7 linked regions of the Homo sapiens genome follow. The protein of the gene in region 6 purifies or fractionates together with the protein of the main gene of each other region. This does not show direct contact. Each region holds a gene or a part of one and is shown on either strand. Other genes may lie near its edges. The genes, in order: HFE, SLC30A6, MANEAL, SUSD2, DNAJC16, ST8SIA3 and GLB1L2.

Region 1 (3,500 bases), on a different chromosome or scaffold from region 6:
TGTCATTGAAGGATCCTAAGAAAGGAGGACCACGATCTCCCTTATATGGTGAATGTGTTGTTAAGAAGTTAGATGAGAGGTGAGGAGACCAGTTAGAAAGCCAATAAGCATTTCCAGATGAGAGATAATGGTTCTTGAAATCCAATAGTGCCCAGGTCTAAATTGAGATGGGTGAATGAGGAAAATAAGGAAGAGAGAAGAGGCAAGATGGTGCCTAGGTTTGTGATGCCTCTTTCCTGGGTCTCTTGTCTCCACAGGAGGAGCCATGGGGCACTACGTCTTAGCTGAACGTGAGTGACACGCAGCCTGCAGACTCACTGTGGGAAGGAGACAAAACTAGAGACTCAAAGAGGGAGTGCATTTATGAGCTCTTCATGTTTCAGGAGAGAGTTGAACCTAAACATAGAAATTGCCTGACGAACTCCTTGATTTTAGCCTTCTCTGTTCATTTCCTCAAAAAGATTTCCCCATTTAGGTTTCTGAGTTCCTGCATGCCGGTGATCCCTAGCTGTGACCTCTCCCCTGGAACTGTCTCTCATGAACCTCAAGCTGCATCTAGAGGCTTCCTTCATTTCCTCCGTCACCTCAGAGACATACACCTATGTCATTTCATTTCCTATTTTTGGAAGAGGACTCCTTAAATTTGGGGGACTTACATGATTCATTTTAACATCTGAGAAAAGCTTTGAACCCTGGGACGTGGCTAGTCATAACCTTACCAGATTTTTACACATGTATCTATGCATTTTCTGGACCCGTTCAACTTTTCCTTTGAATCCTCTCTCTGTGTTACCCAGTAACTCATCTGTCACCAAGCCTTGGGGATTCTTCCATCTGATTGTGATGTGAGTTGCACAGCTATGAAGGCTGTACACTGCACGAATGGAAGAGGCACCTGTCCCAGAAAAAGCATCATGGCTATCTGTGGGTAGTATGATGGGTGTTTTTAGCAGGTAGGAGGCAAATATCTTGAAAGGGGTTGTGAAGAGGTGTTTTTTCTAATTGGCATGAAGGTGTCATACAGATTTGCAAAGTTTAATGGTGCCTTCATTTGGGATGCTACTCTAGTATTCCAGACCTGAAGAATCACAATAATTTTCTACCTGGTCTCTCCTTGTTCTGATAATGAAAATTATGATAAGGATGATAAAAGCACTTACTTCGTGTCCGACTCTTCTGAGCACCTACTTACATGCATTACTGCATGCACTTCTTACAATAATTCTATGAGATAGGTACTATTATCCCCATTTCTTTTTTAAATGAAGAAAGTGAAGTAGGCCGGGCACGGTGGCTCACGCCTGTAATCCCAGCACTTTGGGAGGCCAAAGCGGGTGGATCACGAGGTCAGGAGATCGAGACCATCCTGGCTAACATGGTGAAACCCCATCTCTAATAAAAATACAAAAAATTAGCTGGGCGTGGTGGCAGACGCCTGTAGTCCCAGCTACTCGGAAGGCTGAGGCAGGAGAATGGCATGAACCCAGGAGGCAGAGCTTGCAGTGAGCCGAGTTTGCGCCACTGCACTCCAGCCTAGGTGACAGAGTGAGACTCCATCTCAAAAAAATAAAAATAAAAATAAAAAAATGAAAAAAAAAAGAAAGTGAAGTATAGAGTATCTCATAGTTTGTCAGTGATAGAAACAGGTTTCAAACTCAGTCAATCTGACCGTTTGATACATCTCAGACACCACTACATTCAGTAGTTTAGATGCCTAGAATAAATAGAGAAGGAAGGAGATGGCTCTTCTCTTGTCTCATTGTGTTTCTTCTGAGTGAGCTTGAATCACATGAAGGGGAACAGCAGAAAACAACCAACTGATCCTCAGCTGTCATGTTTCCTTTAAAAGTCCCTGAAGGAAGGTCCTGGAATGTGACTCCCTTGCTCCTCTGTTGCTCTCTTTGGCATTCATTTCTTTGGACCCTACGCAAGGACTGTAATTGGTGGGGACAGCTAGTGGCCCTGCTGGGCTTCACACACGGTGTCCTCCCTAGGCCAGTGCCTCTGGAGTCAGAACTCTGGTGGTATTTCCCTCAATGAAGTGGAGTAAGCTCTCTCATTTTGAGATGGTATAATGGAAGCCACCAAGTGGCTTAGAGGATGCCCAGGTCCTTCCATGGAGCCACTGGGGTTCCGGTGCACATTAAAAAAAAAATCTAACCAGGACATTCAGGAATTGCTAGATTCTGGGAAATCAGTTCACCATGTTCAAAAGAGTCTTTTTTTTTTTTTTGAGACTCTATTGCCCAGGCTGGAGTGCAATGGCATGATCTCGGCTCACTGTAACCTCTGCCTCCCAGGTTCAAGCGATTCTCCTGTCTCAGCCTCCCAAGTAGCTGGGATTACAGGCGTGCACCACCATGCCCGGCTAATTTTTGTATTTTTAGTAGAGACAGGGTTTCACCATGTTGGCCAGGCTGGTCTCGAACTCTCCTGACCTCGTGATCCGCCTGCCTCGGCCTCCCAAAGTGCTGAGATTACAGGTGTGAGCCACCCTGCCCAGCCGTCAAAAGAGTCTTAATATATATATCCAGATGGCATGTGTTTACTTTATGTTACTACATGCACTTGGCTGCATAAATGTGGTACAAGCATTCTGTCTTGAAGGGCAGGTGCTTCAGGATACCATATACAGCTCAGAAGTTTCTTCTTTAGGCATTAAATTTTAGCAAAGATATCTCATCTCTTCTTTTAAACCATTTTCTTTTTTTGTGGTTAGAAAAGTTATGTAGAAAAAAGTAAATGTGATTTACGCTCATTGTAGAAAAGCTATAAAATGAATACAATTAAAGCTGTTATTTAATTAGCCAGTGAAAAACTATTAACAACTTGTCTATTACCTGTTAGTATTATTGTTGCATTAAAAATGCATATACTTTAATAAATGTATATTGTATTGTATACTGCATGATTTTATTGAAGTTCTTGTTCATCTTGTGTATATACTTAATCGCTTTGTCATTTTGGAGACATTTATTTTGCTTCTAATTTCTTTACATTTTGTCTTACGGAATATTTTCATTCAACTGTGGTAGCCGAATTAATCGTGTTTCTTCACTCTAGGGACATTGTCGTCTAAGTTGTAAGACATTGGTTATTTTACCAGCAAACCATTCTGAAAGCATATGACAAATTATTTCTCTCTTAATATCTTACTATACTGAAAGCAGACTGCTATAAGGCTTCACTTACTCTTCTACCTCATAAGGAATATGTTACAATTAATTTATTAGGTAAGCATTTGTTTTATATTGGTTTTATTTCACCTGGGCTGAGATTTCAAGAAACACCCCAGTCTTCACAGTAACACATTTCACTAACACATTTACTAAACATCAGCAACTGTGGCCTGTTAATTTTTTTAATAGAAATTTTAAGTCCTCATTTTCTTTCGGTGTTTTTTAAGCTTAATTTTTCTGGCTTTATTCATAAATTCTTAAGGTCAACTACATTTGAAAAATCAAAGACCTGCATTTTAAATTCTTATTCACCTCTGGCAA
Region 2 (3,500 bases), on a different chromosome or scaffold from region 6:
GTAGCTGGGACTACAGGCATACACCACCATGCCTGGCTATTTGTATTTTTAGTAGAGACGGGGTTTCACCATGTTGGCCAGGCTGGTCGTAAACTCCTGACCTCAAGTGATCCACCCGCCTCGGCCTCCCAAAGTGCTGGAATTGCAGGCATGAGCCGCCCCACCTGCTCTCTAATTACTGTTATGTCTCTAATTATTGTTGTTTGTGTGTTTGTTCTATGTTGATAATTTTACTTATTTAGTAGATTACTTTCCTTTAAGCAAAGAAAACTTCTTCATAATCTACTTTTTCTCTCCATAGATTTGCCTGTTTTGGACATTTCATATAAATGAAATCATAAAATATGTGGTCCTTTATGACTGTCTTCAAAGCATAATGTTTTTATTGTTTTCTTGTAAGATATCAGTAGTTGCTGTTTTTATTGCTGAATTGTATGGCTATACCACATTTCTACCAAGTTCCTTATTAGCTCCAAAACATTAAGATTTCCTAAAAACTTACCTAAAAAGATCAAAAATGGTCAGGTAAGTATAGGCAGTTAAAGCTGCAAAACAACAAAAAAATGATTAAAAGTATTACTGACCCCTCTAAAAAAATACAGCAAGTTACCAAAATTATTTCTACCAGGGGTATCCATTATCAAAAAAACTTTTGAGTCACGGGCCAACCTCATATATTGGCAGTTATCTAGTAAATCTGATAAATATATGTAGCCAAAGTTCGTTGGTAGAAAAGCTTACTTCCCAACCTGATTTCTCCATTAGGAAAAATGAAGCAATGAATGTTCAAAAGCCCTGTTACCATTTTTCTGCCTGCTTCTGTAATCTCAGCGCTATTTCAAATGTATTGTTTGAATAACTGAACAAAAGAACAATGCAATAAAAAACATAAAAAGATATAAGAAAAAAATTACAGAATTCCCTTTTTAAGGAAAAGCCAACAAACCTCAAAATCTAACTTACAAACTGCATAAATTAAAGTTTTAATCTATTATATTAAAAACAAATCTCCAGCCAGGCACGGTGGCTCACGCCTGTAATCCCAGCACTTTGGGAGGCTGAGGCGGGTGGATCATAAGGTCAGGAGATCGAGACCATCCTGGCCAACATGGTGAAACCCCATCTCTACCAAAACTACACAAATTAGCCAGGCGTGGTGGTACGTGCCTGTAATCCCAGCTACTTGGGAGGCTGAGGCAGGAGAATCGCTTGAACCAGGGAGGTGGAGGATGCAGTGGGCCAAGATCACACCACTGCACTACAGCCTGGCAACAGAGTGAGACTCCGTCTCAAAAAAAAAAAAAAAAAAAAAAAATCTCCAGATAGATTTAATGATTTTTCAAAAAATAACAGCTTATTTAAAATGAAAATGGCCAGGCATTGTGGCTTACGCCTGTAATCCCAGCACTCTGGGAGGCCAAGGTGGGTAGATCGTTTGAGCTCAGGATTTTGAGACCAGCCTGGGCAACATGGCGAAACCCCATTTCTGTTTTAAAATATATTTTAAAAGGAAAAAAACTTAAAAAAAAATTACAATCCTAACAAATGAACAAAAGTTTACAGTTTACAGGGAAGTTTTAAATATAGTCCCTTATTTAAATCATTTGAGTTATATACATTTCAGAATAATATATTCTATGTAAGATATACCTTTATTTCCAATGAGAAAAATAAAAGTAAAAATAACAACTCCATAAAAATACAAAGGTGACATACCTATACTATTAGTAGAACTGCACCACATAAGCAGGAAGCCAGTACATATCAAGTTTATTACACCAAAGAGCAGTATCTTCCAGGACTGTGAAAATAAAAATCACTCTTATGTGTACAGAAGTGATAAATTTCACGGGGTCTGTTCAAGTTGCTACAATTTATACTCTGATATTCAAAGGAATAAACATAACTTCCTTCAAAAAGTCTGTGTCACACTTTCTACATCTACCAAAATTGTCATCGGCTAAGTTATTACAGTATACAAGTTTAAAAGAATAGTTCCAGAAGGAGAGTTGTTCAAGAGAAAATAAATTCTGACATAGAAATTCTCAAATAGTTGAGAAAAATACACATACATATGCATATCGTTTTGTCTCTATAAGTACATATTATAGAGACAACGATGAAGCAAATGGGGCCAAATGTAAGCAACTGGTGAATCTGAATAAAGGGCATGATGATGTTCCTAAAAGTTAGTAATCTTGTCCAGGTGCAATGGCTCACTCCTGCAATCCCAGCACTTTGGGAGGCCAAGGTGGGTGGAGGTCAGGAGTTCAAGATCAGCCTAGCCAACATGGTGAAACCCCGTCTCTACTAAAACAAAAAATCAACCAGGTGTGGTGGCAGGCACCTCTATTTCCAGCTACTTGGGAGGCTGAGGCAGGAGAATCGCTTGAACCAGGGAAGCAGAGGTTGCAGTAAGATGAGATTGTGCCACTGCACTCCAGCCTGGGCGACAGAGCGAGACTCTGTCTCAAAAAAAAAAAAAAAAGTACTGACTTTGGCTGTTCAACATCAACCAAGTAAGGTGAGAAATAAGGAAAAATCTTCATTTTGGCAACACAGAGATTTTTGGTTACCTTGTAAAAGCTGTTTATGTGAATTAGTGGGCACAAGTACCTAACTGGTATGTGTTTAATAAAGATGAGGAGAAGAGAAGGTGAACACAATGTACTGATAATTCTTTCAAGTAGGTTTGCTACAAAAGGAAGCTGAGAAATGAAGCAGCCCTGAGAGTGGAACTTATAACATGTAATTACGATGCAAGAAAGAGGAGAATGATGCATGATGCAAGAAAAACAATGATGTAAGAAACAGAACAATTATAGGGACATCATCTTTCAGTAGGCAACAAGTGAAAGGATTGCCTTTATAGAGAAGAACTGAAAGCTTGTCCAGAGAAATAGGAGGGAAGGCGGAGTGATGGCTGATGTGCTAATGATAGGATGTAGAAGTTTTCTTCTGATTACTTCTTTTCCCTTGGTGAAACAGGAAGCAAGATCATCAGGTTAGGGTGAGGATGAAGAAGGTATTAGAAGCTTGAGGATAGAAACGAAAGAACATCGTATGAAACAGCCATCTAGGAAATTGGAAAATTGAATGAACAAAGGAAATATAAAATGAAAGAGCACTAATAGGCAGCACTTAATAGGCAGCACTAATGGTCTGTCTGATCATGAATTCAAAGTGAGACCAGTCGCATGGTTTTGTTTCTCTCAGGTTACATTCAGTTGCTTAGATGCAAGTAGAGTAGAAAGAAAGTGAACTTAATGAAGGTTAGGGATTTTCCAGGAATTAAGACAGAGGGAAGGGGAGCACAAAAGAGTTGAGAACATATAAAAGAAAATGATACTAGCTGGGAGTGGTGGTGTACCCCTGTAATCCCAGCTACTCAAGAGGCTGAGGAAGGAGGATCCCTTGAGCCCAGGAGTTCAAGACCAGCCTGGATAATTTAGCAAGATTCCATCTCAAAAAAAAAAGAACAAAAAGGAGGGAAATGATAA
Region 3 (2,393 bases), on a different chromosome or scaffold from region 6:
ACTCCATTCCTGCTCTTTTCCCAGCTATTACTCCCCATCTGGCCTTTCTATCCGGCTCTCATGTGTCATGCAAGCTTGTTCCATCTTATGGGACTTGCATCTGCCAGCCCTCTGCTTGGAATTTTCTCCCTGCCTCCGGATCTTTGCAGAGCTGACCCTTTTTCTTTTCTTTTTTCTTCTTATTATTACTACTTTTTTCTGAGATAGGGTCTTGCTCTGTTGCTCAGAGCTGGAGTGCGGTGGGCGATCTCAGCTCACTGCAACCTCTACCTCCTGGGGTTCAAGTGATTCACCTGCCTCAGCCTCTCAAGTAGCTGGAATTACAGGCACCCGCTACCATACCTGCCTAATTTTTGTATTTTTAGTAGAGATGGGGTTTCACCATGTTGGCCAGGCTGGTCTTGAACTCCTGACCTCAGTCAATCCACCCACCTCAGCCTCTCAAAGTGCTGGGATTACAGGTGTGAGCCACTGGGCCTGGGCTTTTTTTTCTTTTTTCTTTTTTTTATTCTTAAGTCTCACTGTATCGCCCAGGCTGGAGTACAGTGGTGCCATCGTAACTCACTGCAACCTCAAACTCCTGGGCTCAAGTGATCCACTCACCTCAGCCCCCCAAATAGCTGGGACAATAGGCATGCATCACCATGCCCAGCTAATGTTTAAAAAAAAATTTGTAGAGATAGAGTCTCCCCATGTTGCCCAAGCTGGTCTCAAACTCCTGGCCTCAAGTGATCCTCCCACCTCAGCCTCCCAAAGTGCTGGGATTACAGGTGTGAGCCACCACACCCAGCCCTGACTGCTCATTCAGGTGTTAGCTCACCTGTTGTCTCCTCAGACTCACCTGACCTGACTATCCATTCTTAAGTAGCATCGTGGGCACACTCTAGCACAAAATCCTGTACAGATCACTGTTTGATTTTTCCCATTTAATTACTGTCTGCTCCACAGTACCTGCAACATACACTAGAAAGTAAACATTATGAAATCAGAAATTTCGCTAGTCCTACCCATTACTGTACAACTGGGCTTAAGTCAGTGCCTGGACACATGTAGGCACTCAATACTCTCTTTTTTTTTGTTTGTTTTTTTAAGAGACAGAATCTTGCTCTGTTCTCAGCTGGAATGCAGTGGTGTAATTGTGGCTAACTGTAACCTCAAACTCCTGGGCTCAAGTGATCCTCCCACCTCTGCCTTCCAAGTAGCTAGGACTACTACAGGCATGCACTGCTATGCCCAGCTAATTTTTTTTTTCAGTAGAGATGGGGTCTTGCTATGTTGCCCAGGCTGATCTCAAACTCCTGGCCTCAAGCAATCAATCCTCCCACCTCTGCCTCCCAAAGCCCTGGGAGGCCGGGTGCAGTGGTTCACACCTGTAATCCCAACACTTTGGGAGGTCGAAGTGGGCAGAGCATCTGAAGTCAGGAGTTCAAGACCAGCCTGGCCAACATGGTGAAATCCCAGGCTGGAGTACAGTGGTGCCATCATAGTTCACTGTAACCTCAAACTTCTGAGCTCAAGTGATCCACTCACCTTAGCCCCCCAAGTAGCTGGGACCATAGCTGTGCATCACCACGCCCAGCTAAAGATACAAAAATACAAAAGTTAGCTGGGTGTGGTGGTGGGCACCTGTAATCCCAGCTACTCAGGAGGCTGAGGCAGGAGAATCGCTTGAACCCAGGAGGCAGAGGTTGCAGTGAGCCAAGATTGTGCCACTGCACACCAGCCTGGGCAACAGAGTGAGACTCTGTCTCAAAAAAAGAAAAAAAAAAAAAAAAGCACTGGCATTACAGGCATGAGCCATTGCACGCAGCCTCATTCAATATTTATTTATTTATTTTTGAGATGGAATCTCGCTCTGTCACCCAGGCTGGAGTGCAGCGGTGCAATCTCGGCTCACTGCAACCTCCGCCTCCCAGATTCAAGCGATTTTCCTGCCTCAGCCTCCTGAATAGCTGGGATTACAGGTGTGCGCCACCACGCCTGGCTAATTTTTTTATTTTTAGTAGAGACGGGGTTTCACCACGTTAGTCAGGCTGGTCTCGAACTCCTGACCTCAAGTGATCCGCCTGCCTCGACCTCCCAAAGTGCTGGGATTACACCATGCCTGGCCTTCATTCAATACTTTCTGAATGAATAAATGAGGTGCCTACATTGTAGAAGCTACTTTCACATATATTAATTCGTGTGATTCTCACAAGACTCAAAGGTTAAGAGGCTTGCCTCATCACAGATTAGAAGCCACAGGACAGGAATTGAAACCCAGGCTGCCTGACTTTAGGCCCAGTACTCTCTTACTATAAAACAGCTGCTGGGAAACACAGGCATTATGCCCTGTGTCTCTTGACCTGCCCCTCCAAACCTTCTATCCCTACCTCCATTTTGATCCCCACCAA
Region 4 (2,560 bases), on a different chromosome or scaffold from region 6:
CCTCCGCCACCCCTGCCATGCTTGCGGTGGAACTCCCAGCGGCACCTGAGGTGCAGCCCCTGCAGTGAATCCCCCATGTTGAGATGCACGTGTGGGTCCCTCTGGCCTTGGCTGCAGCAGCCACACCTGCCTGGGCACGTCCCGAGGGTCCCTGAACCCTCAGTGCTGACAGGCCCCTCCCAGGTCCTCACCCATCCCAACCAGGAATCCTTTCATTGACTCAGTTCCCTGAGGCAAGGGGTTCAGATGTGGAGCTACCACTTGCCAGGGGCATCCTTAACCGTGCAGGGCTGGAGACCTTGCAGTGGCTTTTGAGGACTGAGGGAGTGACAGGAGCACAGGAGTGGCTCTGTGCAGGCCAGCGGTGAACGTTACCAGGGTGAGTTCCCCTCCAGAAGGCTCCCGGGATCCTCCGTAGGGAGGACATGTCCCACCGTCACGGCCTCTCGGCTTTTGACCAGGTGGGTACGACGGGGGCACCTCGGTGGGTGTGAAGGCCTGAGGTCGGACCACCCAGGCCTCTAGCCAGGACTGGGAGAGGCATGAAGGCCCAGGGCTTCCCCTCAGTCTCCCTGCAGGAATGGGGAGGAGGTGAGGGCAGCCCGCAGCCTCGCGTGGCTGGACTGCTCACCTTTCAGGTCCATCCAGCTCTGCTCGGTGAAGCTCAGCACCTCCTGGTTCAGCAGCACCTCCAGACCTCCGGTCCTGTTGGCCAGCCTGACTTCCACCACATCTGAGTTGCCCTCCTGGACGGCCACTGCGGTCAGCCCAGTGCCACGGGTCTCCGTGCCTGCGGTGGTGGGAGCAGAACGGGAGCCACTTGGCTCCAGCCTCCCACCTTGGTTCTACCCCATGCCAACCAGAGCAGCCCCTAGCCCTGGCCTCACCGTTGGACATCGTCCCGGGCTGGGCCCGCGCCTGCACCCTCAGGTCGGTCAGCGCTGCCTCCAGCAGCACGTACTCTCCGCGCCCATTGAATGTGAAGTTGGTGCCGTCGAAGGTCACAAAGTGTGGGTCTCCGAAGGCGGAGGCTAGGGTGAGAGTGGAGGGTCACGTGGGGGTGCACCCCAGCCCAGCCCGATCTTTCCCAGGGTCTGGGGCACGGGATGGCACCCACCCAGTCTTGGGGGCCGGTAGTTGCGGCAGTCATTGGAGGGCCGCCGTTGCATGTAGCGGGGGCAGTCGGGTGCCCAGAGGCAGCAGTAATAGAAGCTGAGGACATCGTAGAGCCAGTGGGACATGCTGGGCACTCGGGGTGGCGTGCGGAACGGGGGTGCGCCCCAGTCATGGCCGCGGTCGGGAGTGCTGCCGCCGCTGGAGTCAGCTGTCAGGAGCTGCGTCCCGTCCGCTGTGTAGCAGCACTGCTGACCTGAGCCGTACCGGAGGCTGCAGGAGCCAGTGAGTCAGGGCCAGGCCACTGTTGGGAGCCCACCCCTGACCCCAATCCCCATACCGGCCCCAGCCTGGGGGCTCACCTGGCCTGCACAGAACGCACACAGTGCACGGCCCCGGGGTGGTAGGTGCACACGCTGCCCTGCTCCATGTCACAGCCGTAGTCCGTCTGCAGAGCAGCAGGTGGCTGTCACCCAGTGGCCTCGGGTTCTGTCATCCCCTCCCTGAGGCCAACCCTGCAGGGGTCCTGAGACCCCAGCCCCACCCTCCAGGACACCTCTGTCTGCCTCCCCTGGTGCTGTCCTCAGTGGGGAGGCTAACCCCTCATCCCCTCTCCTGGGCCCTGATGGGAGGCTCACGAAGAAGCGGCCGGAGTCAGCCCGGGCCTGGGTCAGGGTGCAGGGGCAGTCCGGCAGCTCCTCCAGGAAGTTGGGCAGCTGATCCTCCAGCTCCTCCCAGGCCTGGCACTGAGTTCGTGCCCAGGCCACAGGGTCCTCTCGGAAGTCATCGCTCAGGTGCCAGGCCAGTGCGTGGTCGTTGGTCCAGAGCGCCTGCACGTCCCTGTGGAGGTGATGATGCTGGAGCTGGGCCAGCCCACACCACCCCATGGTCGCCCCACTCTCCCCACCCCCAGCCTGGGCTGCCCAGGCAAGCATGATGGGCCTCGGGCGGCGAGGCCCTCCAGCCATCACCTGCACATCCATGCCTTCTTACTTCTGCCCTGCGTAATTTTTGCTGTCGATGATCCGAAGTGCACCCACTCGCCATCTCTGGTAGCTGGGAGGAGCAGGTTTTGGGGTGAAAGTGAAAGAGCCGGAGTTGGGGATGTGTGTGGCCAGGGGGTACAGGTACGACCACTTTGCAGTCCACTCCTGTGAGTAGGGCATTCCTGAGGGAGAGGATGCCTGGTTAGCCCTGGGGTTCCTTCGAGGCCTGGCCCCAGGCCTTGCCACCTACAGCAGCCTGACAGATGGGTGGATGGACCGCCAGGCGGTCCCCTTAGGAGGGGCTGTTCTAGCAGGGACCCCGGCTTGGGTGACCATCACCTCCTGCCACACTCCAGGATCCCTGTCCCTGCTGGAAGCTGGGCCCAGGGCCATGCCAGCCGTGCAGGGGTTCCTCATGAGCCTCCTCCCCTGGAGCCAGGCCCCATGAGCTGCCCCCTCCC
Region 5 (3,500 bases), on a different chromosome or scaffold from region 6:
AAAATAAAAAATAAAAAATGTCCGGGAGCAGTGGTTCACACCTGTAAGCCCAGCACTTTGGGAGGCCGAGGCGGGTGGATCACCTGAGGTCAGGAGTTTGAGACCAGCCTGACCAACATGGTGAAACCCTATCTCTACTAAAAATACAAAAATTAGCCAGGCATGGTGACAGGTGCCTGTAATCCCAGCTACTCAGGAGGCTGAGGCAGGAGAATTGCTTGAACCTGGGAGGCGGAGGTTGCAGTGATCCCCAGATTGAGCCTGGGGGACAAGAGCAAGACTTTGTCTCAAAAAAAAAAAAAGTAAAAAATAAAAAAAAGGGAAGTTACTGAAAGAAAGAAAAAGGGGAATAGAAAATGTGTAAACGTTCTTCCACTTGCCCCATCAAGTGTACCTTGAAATTTAATAATGATGAACTCTTTTCAAAAGAAAAACAGTGATATCAGTATTAACAGAGAAAAAGAAATTCAGCCTGGCAATATCCCTACCAGTTGTTGTGAAAAATGCTATCCCAGCAGTCTGAGATGTAGTCAGAAGCAGAGTAGAACCATCGAAGGAGAAAAACCTATGTAGAGAGAAAATGGATGATGGTCAGGACTAAAGCCGGAAGGGAGAGTCCCTCTACCCTGCAACACAGTGCTGCTGCTGGACCTCTGCTCTGAGCAGAAATCCGCCACCAGCACTGTGTACTCACAAGCCCTCCTGGTGTCCCACCCTTCCCAGCCCCGATGCTCACAGGGGCAAGTTCATCGGTCAGGTCAGGAAGCACTGCTTCAGAGGACAGAAGAGCTGGATCTTTACGCAGCTGGTCGAGATAGCCCAAGAGGATAAATTTGTCACTCTCACTCCCAATCCAAGGGTCTTCCAGGGTTTTATACACCACCCTTCCTGCTGTGTTGCGCCTTTCTAAAATAGACACCTGGAAGAAAAGTAGAGAAAAAACATCAGAAGTTTCAAAAGCATGGTTAAGTTACAGTTGTTTGCTTTTTTTTTTTTTTTTGACGGAGTCTTGCTTTGTCGCCCAGGCTGGAGTGCAGTGGCGTGATCTTGGCTCACTGCAAGCTCCGCCTCCCGGGTTCACGCCATTCTCCTGGCTCAGCCTTCCCAAGTGGCTGGGACTAGAGGCACCTGCCACCATGCCTGGCTAATTTTTGGTATTTTTTTTTTTTTTTTTTTTTTTTTTTAGTAGAGATGGGGTTTCACCATGCTAGCCAGGATGGTCTCGATCTCCTGACCTCGTGATCTGCCTGCCTTGGCCTCCCAAAGTGCTGGGATTACAGCTGTGAGCCACCACACTTGGCCCAGTTGTTTGTTTTTTGAGACAGAGTTTCGCCCTTGTCTCCCAGGCTGGAGTGCAATGGTGCGATCTTGGCTCACTGCAACCTCTGCCTCCCAGGTTCAAGCAATTCTCGTGCCTCAGCCTGCTGAGTAGTTGGGACTACAGACAGGTGTGCACCACACCAGCTAATTTTTGTATTTTTAGTAGAGATGAGGTTTCACCATGTTGATTAGGCTGGTCTCAAACTCCTAGCCTCAAGTGATCCACCCGCCTCGGCCTCCCAAAGTGCTGGGATTATAGGTGTGAGCCACCGCGTTCGGCCTAAGAAATAACTTTTATGGTGACTTTCCTAAGCTTTTGTTAAAAGTTAAAGCTCTTTTTTCTCAATAGACTTTGCTCTATAACCTTGACTTAATATTAATGGAAACCTTTGTTTTTTAGAGAGATTTTCCATGATTGCGAAAATGATGAAAAGTCAGAGGAGAATTTCTTGTTTCTGTAGGAAGTGATGACAATGCAGGAGAAAGGCAGGAGAGATCAACCAGGATGAAGTTAAAGAGGCAGAGGGGGGCAGAAATTTCCAGAGCACATTACCAGTGGCCTAAGGATTTGTAAAATCTAGGATCTAGGATGCTGCAAGACCAGACTTGCCTTAGTAAAAAACTGGTGAAAAGCACTGATGACCTTTACCGTTCACTGATAGAAAACATGGTTTCTGTGGGGGCCTGAGGCTGACATCCAGAATGTAAAAAGACCAGGTCAAAAACTGTTTTAAGAGTAGGCTTTAGGCCAGGAGCAGTGGCTCATGCCTGTAATCCCAGCACTTTGGGAGGCGGGAGGATTGCCTGAGCTCGGGAGTTTGAGACCAACCTGGGCAACATGTCGAAACCCTATCTCTACAAAAAAATACAAAAAATTAGCCAGGCGTGGTTGTGTGTGCCTGTGGTCCCAGCTATGTGGGAGGCTGAGGTGGGAGGATCACTTGAGCCTGGGAGGTCGAGGCTGTAATGAGCTGAGATCATGTCACTGCACTCCCAGCCTGGGAGACAGAGTGAGACCCTGTCTCAAAAGAAAAAAAAAAAAATCAAGAAAAAGGAAAAACAAAAGAGTAGACTTTGAAAATAGGCTTCAGAGTTTCAGATTTCCTAGAATCTGTATTCAACACTCTCAAGGAAGAAGGAAACAGAATCAAGTGCCACATGGTTATGAAGAGCCTGGGATGAGGAGAGACTCTGTGGCTTACCGCTGATTTCCCTTGAAACGCCTCACTGTCTGGTAGTAAGGTGTCGGCAAACTCCTGCTGCCGATTGCTGTAGACATGCACAAATCTCACTGTGTCTTGAGTGTTTGCCAGGGCAAAGGACAGGAAAGCCTCAAAGGGTTTGCTCAACTTGGTAGTCTCAGCAGTCAATAAAACCACACAGTACCTGCACAACAAAAAGACAAAACTTTATAACCAATCCCTGATGGCAGGGCCAGCACCTATAATGGCAAGTGAAGGTGAAGAAGACGAGGAGCTCATCTTATGGAAGTGAATACACTGTGCCCAGTGAAAGCTGACATTTCAACTAAGGGAGGATTTCCAAGTCATTAACAAACTGTTTCTCTTCCCAATCTGTGATGTTTTTCCCAAACCAAACTTCTTTACCACATTTACGAATTTTAAAATTTTATATATATGAAATTTTATATATATGAAAACTATATATATATAGTTTTGTTTATATTGCCCAGGCTGGTCTTGAACTCCTGGCCTCAGACAATCCTCCTACCTCAGGCTCCCAAAGTGTTGGGATTACTGGCATGAGCCATCGTGCCTGCCAGGAATTTAAGGGGTTGGTCACTGAATCTCTGATGCAGCAGGGCCTTTCATTTTATTTTTTGAGATGGAGTCTTGCTCTGTCGCCCAGGCTGGAGAGTGTAGTGGTGTGATCTCGGCTCACTGTAACTCCGCCTCCTGAGTTCAAACCATTCTCCTGCCTCAGCCTCCCAAGTAGCTGGGATTATAGGCGTGCACCACCTCACCCAACTAGTTTTTGTATTTTTAGTAGAGACGGGTTTTCACTATGTTGGCCAGGCTGGTCTCAAACTCCTGACCTCAAGTGATCCGCCTGCCTCAGCCCCCCAAAGTGCTGGGATTATAGGCGTGAGCCACTGTTCCTGGCCGGCAGGGCCTTTTAGAAACTATTTGTCCTAGTTCTTCCAGTATAGGGAGGGCTGG
Region 6 (3,438 bases):
GGGGAAGGTTCTATGAGGAGGTGATCTAGAGAGAGCCTGGGATGGGGTGAAAGGTACAGAGGAAGGAGAACTGGACAGGGAGTCAGGCTGAGTTCTCATTTTGACTTGTCACTTAACTGCACAGCAGGGACAACTCCCTCAGCATCTCTCCCTCACCTGATTATTCATTAAATAAAATGATGTATGTAATAGTAACTTTCAAGAGTAATGTATTATTATTAATAATGTTAAGGCCTGTCACATGATTAGCATTTAAAGGACCAATGGAAAAGTTATGTGTAGGGACTTTGAGTATTTCCTGCTTGTTCATGGCTGTAGACAGCCAAGCTCACCCTTTCTGGGGTCCTACAAATTTCCAACGACCTCAAAACACTGAGAATATAAAACAGGAGGAAGCATTCAATCTCTTCACTGGATGAAATGTGAGTATGTGTTAGCACATGTATGTGTGTGTATGTGTGTGTGGGGGCTCTCCCGAATGTGACAGACAACCAGCAGTGTTTCCCAAAGCAAAACGAAATGGTTTATTTAAAAACAACGCATTCAGTACTGTGTTTGGAACACAAGGCAATGAGGCAGGCACATTCACACTTAACAAGTACATTTGAGGAGCTGTCGAAGCAAATGGTTGCATTTTCTTCACAAACTACAGTCACAATATACACGCAATTGCCTCTGTCCTTGTTCACCAAGAAAGCAGAAGATATTTACAAGTTCCTCAGTCTAGCAGTGCTGGCTTCTCTTGGGTCTCTGTGGCCCTCACATTCTGGCAGCTTGTTTCCAAGGGCAGGCGAGGCTGCCTGTCACAAGGGAGGTCAGTCTGATTTGTTAAGGCCCTCGGCTTCTTCCAAAGAGCAAGAGAACTTCTGACAGAGTTGGGAAAGAGGGAAGTTTTCAATACCAGTATCTCAGCATAAAATGGCACTTTCCAAAACAAATGCATCAAGTGTTGAGTGACGGGGTGAGCGGGCAGGGAATCACGGTATTAACAATATAAGAAGCATTTATTTTCCCTGACACATACTTCTTGCTCATTTATTTAATAACTTACATTCGCTATTCTTCTACTTTTTGACCTTTTGGTTTCATCATTACTCTTAAAGAGCTTTGCTCCTCCTTCTATACTGATACACTATTCTTTAAAATGCTGAAATGCAATGGTGAAATCAAAGTATGTTAAGCGAGAGAAGATATCACAAACATTCTTTTGTCTTGACTTCTAATTAATGCTTTCACAATTAATTGTCAATGTCCATCTAACTAATGGAAGCAGCACAGTGTGGTGTAGCAGAATCAGTGGTTGGGAGACCCAGACTCTAATTCCAGTTAGCTAGCTGGGCAAATAAGTCACTCCAACTTTCTGAACCTCAGTTGTCTCATCTCCACATGGAGGATGTTGATCTGGAATCCTGACTTGAGATAACATCTAGATCTGTAAAGTTTTGCTATGGACTTAGGTGGTTGTCCCATGTGAGTAAATGATAGTGTATTGCGATGTTTCCATACATTTGTTTTGTGTCCTGGGAGAATTTCAGTGCTAACTAATGATGCTTGGTGACCGGATCTCAGCCTGTTACTCAACTCCTCCCAGGGCTCTTGGCTGTAAGCGCTCTTGTGCTTTTCTGCACAGTATGGGTTCAGATCTGGATCTTGAAATATGGCTAAAGAGCACTTCTAACATGGGGTACAGTTATTCTCCATATTAAAAAATGGTCTAGATTCCTTCAGAGGGAAACCTCCCTCTTCTTTTTGCAAGTACTTCAATGACTTTATTCCACTTATGCAGGTTGACCAAACCTCTTTCCCATTGTCTGCCAATTTTTCTTCCCTGCCAATTTTCTTCCCTAAGACTAAAAATGCTATGGGAGTGGCTGGTTCCTCAAGAATGGTTTTCTGGTGAATTTGTTCATAATAAAACAAGGCCTACCTGTCAAGCCCCTTGTGCTTGTAGCTGTGGACTTCTCTGTTTGGTGTCAGGAAAAGAGCCAGAGGGTGAAGGCATACTTGTGCTCAGGCTGCATGCAATGTATTGGGAATACAGACATCTGAACATGCACCTGACTCATTTAAAATAAAATGTAGCTTGCTCAATGTAGAGAAACAAGCTCATTTCAATGACCATTAGGAAGAAAGAAAATAGAGGTATAACCTGGCATTTTACACATAGTATAGAAAATGTCCAACTTGCGTTTCAAGCATTTACAGTTTAGAAATGCCTTACAGAACCTGTAGGGTATTTTATTATAGCAACGGAAGTAGATTTGGTCCTTCATGATCTAATTTTGATTTAGTACATGCAGATAACAACTTACGGCCACTCACTGTGTCCTAGGAATTAGGCATATTTTTTCCCAGCATTGCCTCTCCAAAGATTTAATGAAGCCCACCTAAGAATGACTTCTACCAGAAAAATTTGCAATTTGCAAACAAAGCTTGTTCTGTGGATTACCAGATTACCTGATTTCTAAACACTCAGTTGGAAGTACACTCACAACTAGTGGTGAGAAAGGACAGTTGCTCTATTGCTCAATGCCAGGGGACTGCAGGGGCCAAATGTGTATTAGTAGATTTTTGTTTTTCATGGTCCAGCCTTACATCACATGACACCTTATCCTACAAAGTTTGCCCAGTCAGCAATGAAGTTGCCCAGAGATATTCCTACCAAGTGGTATTTCTTCACCGTTGGAAACTTTTCTAAGGGCAAATCAACTCCAGTTGAGTGCAACTTAAACTCTCAGCGTGATGTTTACTGGGTGTCCCCTGGTGGGGTAGAGACCTTGGAACCTCAGTGCCTTTCCAGATATGTAGAGCCAAGTGAGCTTACTGGGTGCCTTGTTCTTCCCCTGCTCCTTTGCAGGCACTGTTTTGTGGGTACCTGTATTTTTTTTATTGTGTCAGAAGGATGAGGGGCAAGTGGATAGGGAAAATGACAAAGTTGGGGAAACAAGTGATGAACTATAGGTATAGATTTTTTAAAAAAGATCAGCCAAACATGGTTTTAACTGGTAGTTAAATTAAAGAATGTTTTCCTGGAGGGTCACCCTTAGAAATTAGAAAAGCCACAGTTGGTAATCTCCCAAGATACTGGGGAGTCTGTTGAGAGGTTCCTAAGAGTCACGTGGAATATTTGAACACCTTGGGATCCAATAATATGCTCTTTTACTAAAAATCAGTAAAACTAACCAACATGGAAATGCTTCCCTTGGTGGAGGGGACATTTAAAAGTCCCTCCAAAGCCTCTGCTAGCCTCTCCTATTTGGTACTCACTGACTTAAAAATTGTTCAGGCAGTGCTATGCTGGAGCTGGCTCATGCTGTATTGGAGCCAACTTATACTGGCTCTTGAAAACATATTGTTGTGTTTTCAGCTGGTTGACATTAAGTTAGTAGCCTGAAATTGGCTGAGATGAGAGTATTTACACCATAGAAATTGGTAGGT
Region 7 (3,500 bases), on a different chromosome or scaffold from region 6:
TGAGACAGAGTCTTGCTCTGGCACTCAGGCTGGAGTGCAGTGGTGTGATCTTGGCTTACTGCAACCTCCGCCTCCCGGGTTCAAGCGATTCTCCTGCCTCAGCCTCCCGAGTAGCTAGGGTTACAGGTGTGTGCCACCACGCGCAGCTAATTTTTGTATTTTTAGTAAAGACAGGGTTTCACCATGTTGGCTAGGCTGGTCTGGAACTCCTGACCTTGTGATCTGCCCACCTCGGCCTCCCAAAGTGCTGGGATTACAGGCATGAGCCACCGCGCCCGGCCTTCCCTATCTCTTTCTTAGGAATGTTACCAAGCATATTTTGAAAAGTCCAAGTATTTTGATAAAGTATAAGAGAAACAAATTCTTGTTATGGTTTTGTCTTCCTATCTCGGCCCACGTGTGTCATCTTCCCAGTGCTAGTCTTGGCTGAGTTTGGTGTTCTGTGGTTGGAGTGGAAATCTGGACAGGAATCAGCTGGGACTTCATTCATTCCTCATCCTCAACATTGTGGCCTTTAAGATTTTCTTGTTAACTGGTGTAACCTTTCTCAGCCTCCCAGTGTACCAGGTGGTTAGACCCAGACTGCCTCAGGGAAGAGGCTGATCCTTGTCCCCAAGCCGTCTCCCCTCCCCTGGTCCCTGGGGAGCCCTGGGCTTCTTTTCCTCCTGGTTTCCAGCATGACCCGCCCTTCCCTCGGGGGCATAGCTTCTGTCTCCACTACCCAGGGCCACTTCTCAGGCACTGATCCATCCAGCCTGGTAGGCTCACCCTAGTCACGAACACAGCCAGGGCAGCCTCTCCCATCCCTGTGGATTAGAAAGCTGTGTGCCACCGTCAGCGATTTCCTCGGCTCAGCCGGGGCCGGGCACAGGAGGACGAAGGGTTTAACAGTCTTAACTTAGAAGCAGTGGGGAGCTGTGGCACTCAGACTCCCCCTTCTCACCCCGCCCATGTGGCACCTGGCCATGCATGAGAGGGGCATGTGGGCACACCTGCGGAGGGGGCGTCCGGGCGTGAGTGAGAAGGCTAACCTGTCAGGTGGGGTTAGAATGTGGGGGTGTCGGTCTGGAGGAAACTGCTCTCTCCTCACCCCTTGTTTGACCCACAGAAATGGGATAATTTCCTGACCCTGTTTAGGACTTCCAGACCAGGGCAAGAGGAGCCTCAGAGCCTTTTGTTAGAAAATATGTGTCTTCTCAGAACCTGAAGTGAGAAGGAAGAGCCCTGACTCCAGCTTTGGAACCAATCCACGCTGCTGTGTTCCTCTGGGGAGTTTGGGATCATAGCAACAGGGTGGAGGGAGAATTCAACTCTTGCTCACCTGCTGCTCTGGGCTGTGCGCCACTGATGCCAAGGCGTTAGCCACGTTGGCAAGGATGGGGACTGCCTCCTGCTCAGCCCCTCGCAGTCTCTGTCAGGCTTGTTTTTTGGGGTGACGCTAGAAGGTTGTGTCTCCTCCTTCCACAGCCTCAGTGATTCCTAACCCTTTTGACTTCACTTTTTGAAATGGGATCACAGAGCAAGTTGTTGAAAACTAGGCCTGGAGTCCTGTGAAAAGCTTTTCTCACTGCTGGCAGCCAGGCCCTGTAGCTGTGGAGCTGGAAATGAACTTCCACCAGGCTGTGTCCTTGGGGAGGGAAGCTGCAGGAGTGCGGGTGGGTGCTCGCCCCAGAATCGGTTTGCATTGTCTCCCCACTTCTGGGCTCAGTGGGGTGGAGGAGGGCACAGGTCATTCTGGAGCACTGGGGGGCCTCTCCCTTCTCACGCATCAACAGCCTGCTCACAGCAAACCCACTGTGACACTAACATCCTTCCTTTCCCCCGTTTACACTTCAAGCTGGCTACTCCAAGACCCTGGCATGAGGCTGAGGACAACTTACAAGGGCTTCACCGAAGCAGTGGACCTTTATTTTGACCACCTGATGTCCAGGGTGGTGCCACTCCAGGTACAAGCAAATGGGGTCTTCTTTGATCTTGGTCTGTCTTCCTCTAGGTCGTGGATCATCCTTGGTTAGTTCTCAGACCAAGGGTCCTCCAGTGTTTTGAACACACGAGCAGGCTCTTCCTCACCGTCCGAGACTCGTAACTGAGGGGCTTGCAAGAGTTGTCTTTGGAAAGATCTGTGCATTTCAGTGTTGTCTCACTTGGGTGCGTTACTGAAAGGACAGACAGATGTAAGGGCTCACATTGCCACATACAGCACTGGAGAGACAGGGATGCTGTGATAGCCGGGAACACGCATCCACTGGCATCTCCATGGTTCCACAGAGACAGGGATGAGGTGATAGCCGGGAACACCCATCTATCTACCAGTGTCCCAGTAGCACTGCGGCTCAGTTTTGCACAGGGTGGAGCACATGTGGATTAACCTTTGCCTATAAGACTGCAGGACTTTTTATAAATTATAAAATTCCTTTCGCTGACTTTACGAGATACTTCCCTCTGCTACCAAAAAGGTGCTGCATGGTACACACTTACTATTCAAAACATGCGTTAAAGTACGTTTTGGGGGAGGAAGTACCTTAATATTTTATATAATAATTGGAAGCTTTGGAAAGCAGGAATGGGAAAAATCAACCCAGTTGCTGTGTAAAACCAGAAAGAACGGCATTGAGAAATTAGTACATCAATAAAAAATTAGTTCAAGTCAGTGGTATGGAATACTCACCACACACATAAATCAAAGGGAACTGCCAGATGAAACACAGGATGCTCAGTTATATTTGAGTTTCAGATAAGCAAGGAATAATTTTTTAGTGTAAATATATTCCAAATATTGCATGGGTCATACTTACACTAAAAAATTATTTGTTGTGAATTCAAATTTAACTTTATGTCTGGTATTTTTGTTTACTAAATCCGGCAGCCTTAACCATGACAGAAGCAAGGAACTAGGAAGTCATTAGCCTAGATCTTGCTGGGAAGCTGGGGATCAGCAGGTTGTAGGAGTCGGGTGGGCAGCAGGATGGCCGTCCTGGGAGCAGGCTCAGAGGCACTTGCAGACGTGCAGCGGGTCACCAATGCATCTTTTTGAAATAAACGATAACATAATTATTATTATTTAACATATTTAAATAATCACATAGTTATTTAATTTTTGTGACTATGGGATAGTATACATAACATAAACTTTGCCATTTTAACCATTTTGAAATGTACAGCTCAGCGGCATTGAGTCCACCCACACTGTTGTGTGCTCATCTCCACAGCCTTAGTTCAGGCTGCCACAACCAAACACCTAGACTGAGTGGCTTACAGACAAAGAAATTCATTTCTCCCAGTTTTGGAGAGTGGGAAGTCCAAGAACAAAGCACTGGCAGATTCGGTGTCTGGAAGGGCCCCCTTCCAGGGCATATACGGCCATCTTCTTGATGCAACCTTACATGGCAGAGAGCGTCAGAGAGCTCCCTGAGGTCCCTCTTATAAGAGCACTAGCCCTGTTGGCAAGGACTCTATGCTCATAACTAATCACCACCCAAAAGTCCCACCTCTGAATACCG

Evidence for each region.
Region 1: the proteins of ST8SIA3 (region 6) and HFE purify together in Homo sapiens (affinity purification with mass spectrometry; one large-scale study listed by BioGRID and IntAct). This does not show direct contact.
Region 2: the proteins of ST8SIA3 (region 6) and SLC30A6 purify together in Homo sapiens (affinity purification with mass spectrometry; one large-scale study listed by BioGRID and IntAct). This does not show direct contact.
Region 3: the proteins of ST8SIA3 (region 6) and MANEAL purify together in Homo sapiens (affinity purification with mass spectrometry; one large-scale study listed by BioGRID and IntAct). This does not show direct contact.
Region 4: the proteins of ST8SIA3 (region 6) and SUSD2 purify together in Homo sapiens (affinity purification with mass spectrometry; one large-scale study listed by BioGRID and IntAct). This does not show direct contact.
Region 5: the proteins of ST8SIA3 (region 6) and DNAJC16 purify together in Homo sapiens (affinity purification with mass spectrometry; one large-scale study listed by BioGRID and IntAct). This does not show direct contact.
Region 7: the proteins of ST8SIA3 (region 6) and GLB1L2 purify together in Homo sapiens (affinity purification with mass spectrometry; one large-scale study listed by BioGRID and IntAct). This does not show direct contact.

The regions. Positions count from the first base shown.
Region 1 is NC_000006.12:26,093,929-26,097,428, forward strand, and holds part of HFE (hereditary hemochromatosis protein isoform 1 precursor), read left to right. Parts: intron 1-257; coding exon 258-298; 3' UTR 299-475; coding exon of another isoform or gene 476-483; 3' UTR 484-3,500. UniProt on the Homo sapiens protein: Binds to transferrin receptor (TFR) and reduces its affinity for iron-loaded transferrin.
Region 2 is NC_000002.12:32,172,364-32,175,863, reverse strand, and holds part of SLC30A6 (zinc transporter 6), read right to left. Parts: intron 1,802-3,500; coding exon 1,717-1,801; intron 546-1,716; coding exon 503-545; intron 1-502. UniProt on the Homo sapiens protein: Has probably no intrinsic transporter activity but together with SLC30A5 forms a functional zinc ion:proton antiporter heterodimer, mediating zinc entry into the lumen of organelles along the secretory pathway.
Region 3 is NC_000001.11:37,796,847-37,799,239, reverse strand, and holds part of MANEAL (glycoprotein endo-alpha-1,2-mannosidase-like protein), read right to left. Parts: intron 1-2,393.
Region 4 is NC_000022.11:24,184,487-24,187,046, reverse strand, and holds part of SUSD2 (sushi domain-containing protein 2 precursor), read right to left. Parts: intron 2,282-2,560; coding exon 2,107-2,281; intron 1,954-2,106; coding exon 1,752-1,953; intron 1,562-1,751; coding exon 1,476-1,561; intron 1,387-1,475; coding exon 1,118-1,386; intron 1,032-1,117; coding exon 888-1,031; intron 791-887; coding exon 632-790; intron 1-631. UniProt on the Homo sapiens protein: May be a cytokine receptor for GPR15LG. May be a tumor suppressor; together with GPR15LG has a growth inhibitory effect on colon cancer cells which includes G1 cell cycle arrest. May play a role in breast tumorigenesis.
Region 5 is NC_000001.11:15,561,348-15,564,847, reverse strand, and holds part of DNAJC16 (dnaJ homolog subfamily C member 16 isoform 1 precursor), read right to left. Parts: intron 2,707-3,500; coding exon 2,523-2,706; intron 920-2,522; coding exon 737-919; intron 566-736; coding exon 489-565; intron 1-488. UniProt on the Homo sapiens protein: Plays an important role in regulating the size of autophagosomes during the formation process.
Region 6 is NC_000018.10:57,365,994-57,369,431, reverse strand, and holds the end of ST8SIA3 (alpha-N-acetylneuraminate alpha-2,8-sialyltransferase ST8SIA3), read right to left. Parts: 3' UTR 501-3,438; downstream 1-500. UniProt on the Homo sapiens protein: Catalyzes the transfer of sialic acid from a CMP-linked sialic acid donor onto a terminal alpha-2,3-, alpha-2,6-, or alpha-2,8-linked sialic acid of an acceptor, such as N-linked oligosaccharides of glycoproteins and glycolipids through alpha-2,8-linkages.
Region 7 is NC_000011.10:134,345,488-134,348,987, forward strand, and holds part of GLB1L2 (beta-galactosidase-1-like protein 2 isoform b precursor), read left to right. Parts: exon of another isoform or gene 1-361; intron 362-1,837; coding exon 1,838-1,946; intron 1,947-3,500.